Homo sapiens: one gene and its partner. The protein of the gene in region 1 interacts with the protein of each later gene in a pairwise test. Each region holds a gene or a part of one and is shown in the gene's direction. Other genes may lie near its edges.

Evidence for each region. The genes of interacting proteins can lie anywhere in the genome.
Region 2: the proteins of AFP (region 1) and AP4S1 interact in a two-hybrid assay, tested with the Homo sapiens proteins (one large-scale study listed by BioGRID and IntAct).

What each region holds. Positions count from the first base shown.
Region 1 is NC_000004.12:73,442,610-73,446,269, forward strand, and holds part of AFP (alpha-fetoprotein isoform 1 precursor), read left to right. Parts: intron 1-737; coding exon 738-835; intron 836-2,383; coding exon 2,384-2,513; intron 2,514-3,660. UniProt on the Homo sapiens protein: Binds copper, nickel, and fatty acids as well as, and bilirubin less well than, serum albumin. Only a small percentage (less than 2%) of the human AFP shows estrogen-binding properties.
Region 2 is NC_000014.9:31,091,563-31,094,373, forward strand, and holds part of AP4S1 (AP-4 complex subunit sigma-1), read left to right. Parts: intron 1-1,344; coding exon 1,345-1,473; 3' UTR 1,474-2,811. UniProt on the Homo sapiens protein: Component of the adaptor protein complex 4 (AP-4). Adaptor protein complexes are vesicle coat components involved both in vesicle formation and cargo selection. They control the vesicular transport of proteins in different trafficking pathways.

The sequences.
Region 1 (3,660 bases):
TTCATTAAGTCAACAATAATTTTATTATTAAGGAAGTGAGTTTGATGGGATAAAGAAGGAAAGACAGACAGACAGAAAGAGAGAAAGAGAGGGTGCTATAAATGGGAAGGAGTAAGTGAAAGAAAACGGAGAAAAGGAGGAGCAGAGGAGAGAGAAAAAATGAAGAACTATGATAAATGCTTTATACTTACTGTTTTTTTAAACCTTAGAACAAATTTGAGGTGTAAGTATTTTTGTCCTTTAACAAACTAGGAAAGAGGTTTAGAGAAGAAAATTTTTTTTAGGTTTAGAGAGGTAGAATAATATCCACCATTAACTACTTGCTACCAGCAGTCCTATAACAAAAATTTCCTGAGAACTGACTACTCTCAGTGTCAAGCCGTGATACAATCGTATTTTTTGTAACTGAGAAGACACTTAAGAAATTAGCAGGCTTCAATTTGTCTTTAAGCTGTTTAAAGGTACAGTTGTTCATTTATGATCCCCAGTATAAAAGTTATGTTTTTGTTTCAAGGTACTTTGAGTAAATTTGTCTGGCACAGATGCATATAAACTAACCCAAAAGAATAAATGAGTCAATAATATTCTGCGATAATGTATGACATTTATAATTTTTAGTAAAAAACATATTTTATGGAATTTCATTTTACCTATACTTGTTGTTTTTCTAAATATTAGAGCTTGTAAAGAAAATGTTAGTATATGCTTTCATGACATTTTGTTTCCTCTACATCTAGGCAGCAACAGTTACAAAAGAATTAAGAGAAAGCAGCTTGTTAAATCAACATGCATGTGCAGTAATGAAAAATTTTGGGACCCGAACTTTCCAAGCCATGTAAGTTCAAGTTCTATCTAGGGAAGAGGGTGAGAGCTACAGAACTACCATTTTGCAATTTGGGTTCGTTTTTTTAATTGTTGCTGTTTTAGAGAATGAAGACCCCTTTGTGACCCCTTTGATGAGGGCTAATGGGATTAGAACCATGAACTCTTAGGATCAGAAGGAAGCTAACGGATAAGTCAGTTTAACACTTACTAAAGCCTAGCTGAGATAATACATAGAAAAGACTTTTAAAGTTTATGTTATTTACCTGTTCTTTAAGACACTTAAGTTCTGGCCTGCCATCAAATTATACCTCATCACTAGACCATATTTTTCTAGCTCTTCTACAAAATAAGTCAGCCTTCACTGAGTGTCATTTAAAACTTTTGCCTTAACAAGAAATTCTTTATATTAATTGTGTTTCTTAATCTTCTATAAGGCTCTTTATAGCATTTATTGCTTCCCATAAAAATATTCCTTTGAGGCAATAATATTAGAATCTAGTGTCAGGAGAAAAGAACATTTTAAATTATATAACTTCTTTAAAGTACTCATCAACTCTTTTATGATAAAACATTTCTAGTATATGAAAATATCTGAGCTGCTAATCGAATAGTAGTAAGTATATATATTCAGAGTTTATTTGATTGCTGTTTGGTTAAATAACACGTTAAAGCATATTGTAGACAATGGAAATCTAGAATGAAGTTTTTAGTAATAGAATTAGTTCTAAAGACTGAAATTTCTTCTTGTAAGAAGTCAGATTTATGCCTTAACTACCCTCCAACTCAATTAGAAATTGAAAGATTAATTTATGACCTACTTTAAAAAAATTTATCTTAGTAATAAAATAGAAATTGAGATAGTATTATAATACCCTTATCATTTGCTATCCATAAGTGAAAGCTAAGTGGTCTAAATTTATAGAGAAGATCCATCTTTATCAGAAGCAGGAGTAACACTATTTTCTCTAGGAGCAATGGTTTTACAAAGACAACTCTTAAAATTTAATGAAATATGCAGAGGAAACCAGAATTTTTATTTCTTACTTCTTTTTTGGCCACATTACTCTCTTGGCACACTGGTATGCCTGAAATGTTTAATCTGCTCCACTTTCTTGTCCCATTTCATTGATTTGCACATACGCCTCCTTTCCTGGATTCTCAGAAGTATTTTTTACCCCAGTAAAAAATGGTTCTCATTTTCATGGAATTTTCCATTTCTTAATTGTTTATCCTTTTAAAGTTTTATGTCCACTCAATACAAATGCTCAGCATAAGGGTTGAATGGCAAAAATAATTTACCTTAATTCTTAAGACATGTTTTAGGAAAAGATAAATTATTTCTAAACCATTTGTGGGGCCAGCTCACAGTTTACAGAGCTACCACCTTGAAAGATATGGCTGGAATCAAGCCTTAAAACATGTTTCCTTTTCTTTTTAAACAACAAGGGAATTTCAGTCATTTCTCTTTGAAACTTCTACTGTAGTAATACTCTATAAATTCTATTTTATTTTGACAGATAACCAAGAAATTAATTTCTAATTTCTTTTTTTTCCCTAGAACTGTTACTAAACTGAGTCAGAAGTTTACCAAAGTTAATTTTACTGAAATCCAGAAACTAGTCCTGGATGTGGCCCATGTACATGAGCACTGTTGCAGAGGAGATGTGCTGGATTGTCTGCAGGATGGGGTGAAGAGTCTTGCTTCTTAAAATAGAAGATTTTCACTCCCTTTTCTTTCTTTTTGTCTCATTCTAAAAGGGAGAAGGTTGTTTGACTTGAATTGGTTACAGAGTATGTAAACTAGGTGACTCCTTAAATTTGCAGAATTCTCGGTAGTAAAACTTAAACCATCTTTTGTTGATCCTGGCTTTCACTTTAGCTATACCCCTTTTTGTGAAACCAAGGCTCATCTATTTCTTACTTCTAAAAAAACCGTGGGAACTTCTCAGAAGGCTTCTCCATAGTTACTTGGAGGACGGGAGGAAACTAAGGTTTAATGTATTTATTTTTTCATTCATTTATTCTTTCATTTGACAAATAAATATATATTAAATACTTTCTATCTGCTAGCCACTATGACAGACACTTGTTTTAAAAGCACAGGCTGACCTCAAGGAATTCACAGTCTGATAGGAGAGATAAGACAGTGACCTCCTTGGAGTTAGGGACTGCCTTGGTTTACTGTTATCTCCATAGCACAATGCCTGGCACATGGAAGGCATTCTATAATAGTTTGTTAAATGAACGAATGCAATAAAAATTGCACAAGTAACTGTCCTACCAGGTAAAAAGCTAGCCTTGCCAAAGACAAGTGTGAATAAAGTGGTCTCGGAGAATTAGAAAACAAAATTTAAAAAACCCAGCAACAGTTTCTTGAGTGTGCTCTAGTCAGTGGTGGTTTAAGCAGTGTGGCATTGGCTTATTTTGGCTAACCCTAGACTTCCTAGATTTTACAAGAGAGGACTGTTGACCCTCAGATTACTCTGTCTCTGTGGGCTCCATGACATACCAAAGAGATTAAAATCCAAGGAGCTTAAAAATTACTGCTCTTAGGTACTCAAATGGCTTGATAACCAGCACTGGACTATGGTTTCCAGAAGGCTGAAAGTGAAGATAAAATGCTCATTTCAGCCCATCCGATGGCAATTCAGTGAGATGCTTGAAGTAAGCAAGAAGCCAAGGCTGCAGAGGAGGCCTGAGAGTGACAGTCCCTGAGGAGCTGGGGAAGAAGTGGGAGGAGGCAGCCTGGCAGGCGACTGTACTACTTTACTTGTTTTTCTTCTAAAAATATGGCATACTAGGAAAACCAACAAGAAGTATTTTGTTTTTCTTTGA
Region 2 (2,811 bases), on another chromosome or scaffold:
CATGGGTCCTTGGAAAACAGTTTATTCTGCTGGAGGACTATTTGCACAGAGCTTAATGAGATATTCACACAGAGCCTAATAAAAACTTTAAAGTCATTCACCATTTGTCCTATTCTGTGTAGTTGCACTTCACTAAGCAAATACAGTGTAGACTTTGAATATCTGGTCTGGTTGAAAAAAATCAAAGGGAACAATTCACTTTACAAAGATTTAATTTTGAACTCCGCTAGTGCATTTAATTACCTATTTGTTGAATGAAGTTTATTTGAAACAATCTGTCAACTGTTTTTGTTTTTGTAACAGACCAGGATCATGCTCTTTAAGTAGACAGAGAACTTCAGATATTAAGGTGTAAAACTGAGAAACATTCATTGTCATCATCTCATTCCAGTTCCCCTTCTTTCACCAAAGAAAAGTTAGGTATTCAGTTGAAGGGATTCTTGAGGGAAGTATTTAGTTCTTTGTGGTTTGCTAGACATCATAGTCTAACAATATTTTCTTCTTTCCCCATGCCCCATACTAACTTCCCAGTAAGAACACCTGTAAGCCAAAGTGGCTCCATCATTCTCAAATGACTTCTTAGAACTACCCATTTGTAAGAGATACTGTCTTGAAATCCAGAAATTTTATTATGCCCTGCCTTCTTCATTCATTTTCTCCTCATAGTTATTTTTACATCAGTCTGTCTGACAGAGAAGAAAACTGAAGGTACAAGGCATTTATTTTGGGGTGGAGGTTTGGGGGCTGAGGAGGGAGGTGTCTAGCCCCTCCTGAGGAGCCTATAAGCAGAGCAGTCAAGCCCAAGCTTTGGGTTTAAATTCAAACCTGGCATTTACTAGCCATGTGACCTTGGACTATGCTTTGAACCTGTTTGATCCTGGGTAAACTGAGGATAATATGTAACAACATACATCAGAGATTTGTAGAGGGCTGAAACTCAACACACTGTCTGGAACGGGAGTATTCAACAAATCGTTGCTACTGTTACTATTATTGTCTGGGAAGACAACACTATTTTTGAGTTAAGGTCATTCTCTTGCCACATGACACTGCTGTGTTCTCTAGCACTTAGTAGACCCCCTATCCCTTTGGTTAAAAAATGTAGCTGTTTCATTTTTATCCCTACTTATCCTGTTAGCTTAACCAAGGTGAAACTAGGTATGTATATATGAAGGTAACAATTTCTAATATGGATGCCAGTTTTAAATTTAATTTCAGAAATTTTGTACAAAAAACCTCATGCTTAGGCTAATTTACACTGGGAACACTCTAGGTTAAGCCATAAATTTTTACTGAATGTTAATAATTTTTAACTTTAAACTAATTTCCTTAATATAACCGTAGATAATGTTTAATTTGGATAAAGTACACATCATTTTGGATGAGATGGTGTTAAATGGCTGCATTGTGGAAACTAACAGGGCAAGAATTCTTGCCCCTCTACTAATTCTTGATAAGATGTCAGAAAGCTGAAAGGAAGTCTCTTCGAGACAATATGGATTTATCAGAAATGCGAGTACCGTGGAATACATCTCAACATGTTAACCCAGAAGAATCTGGAAGACCACAATTACAAAATGGGGTATCCTTCCAAAGACATTATAAATAGGCATTTTCCACAGTTCCTAAAAAGAAAACACAACTGTACTTTAAAATATGTACAAAGAAAAAAATTTCTTTAAACTGAGAGAGAAGTTTTATTTTCTAATTGTAAACATATCTGTCGCACTTTAAATTCTGTTGAGCACCTAAGGAACCCTTCTTGGTCTATGCTTCTTTTGCAAATTGAATTCAGGAATAGCAGGATGGTAGTGGGAAGAAAGTATGGCAGTTTTCCGTCAGCCAATAAAGTTTTAAAATTTAAACACAAGGCATTTTGAGTAACGCTGTTTTCTGAAAGCTATTTTTTTTTTTTTGAGACGGAGTCTAGTCTAGCTGTGTCACCTGGCACATTCTCGGCTCACTGCAACCTCCACTTCCGGGGTTCAAGCGATTCTCCTGCCTCAGCCTCCGAGCTGGGACTACAGGCATGCACCACCACACCTGGCTAATTTTTGTATTTTTAGTAGAGACAGGGTTTCACCATGTTGGCCAGGCTGTCTCAAACTCCTGACCTCAGGTGATCTGCCTGCCTCAGCCTCCCAGAACGCTGGGATTACAGATGAGCCACAGTGCCTGACTTCTGAAGGCTGTCTTATTCCTTTAAAAGGCTTAGTAAAATTAACTTTTTAAGAGGTGTTTTTTTGTTTGTTTTTTTGTTTTGTTTTTTAAGACGGAGTCTTGCTCTGTCACCCAAGCTGGAGTGCAGTGGTGTGATCTCAGCTCACTGCAACCTCCACCTCTGGGTTTAAGCAATTCTCCTGCCTCAGCCTCCTGAGTAGCTGCGACTACAGGCATGTAGTCCCCAGGAGACTGAGCTGTGATTACAGATGTGAGCCACCATGCCCTGCCCGGTTTTATGTAAAGCCCAGCTAATTTTTGTATTTTTAGTAGAGATAGGGTTTCACCATGTTGGCCAGGCTGTTCTTGAACTCCTGACCTCAAGTGATCCACCTGCTTCAGCCTCCCAAAGTGCTGGGATTACAAGCATGAGCCACCATGCCCAGCCAAGAGGTGTTTTTTGTTTGTTTGTTTTTAAGAGAAGCAGGTCTTGCTGTGTTGTCCAGGCTGGACTGCAGTGGCTTTTCACAAGCATGATCATGTTGTACTACAACCTTGAACCTTCCTGGCCTGGCTCTAAAAGCTTTGTAATGTGGGGCTGGTGCAGTGCCTCACACCTGTAACCCCTGCACTTTGGGAGGCTGAGGAAGG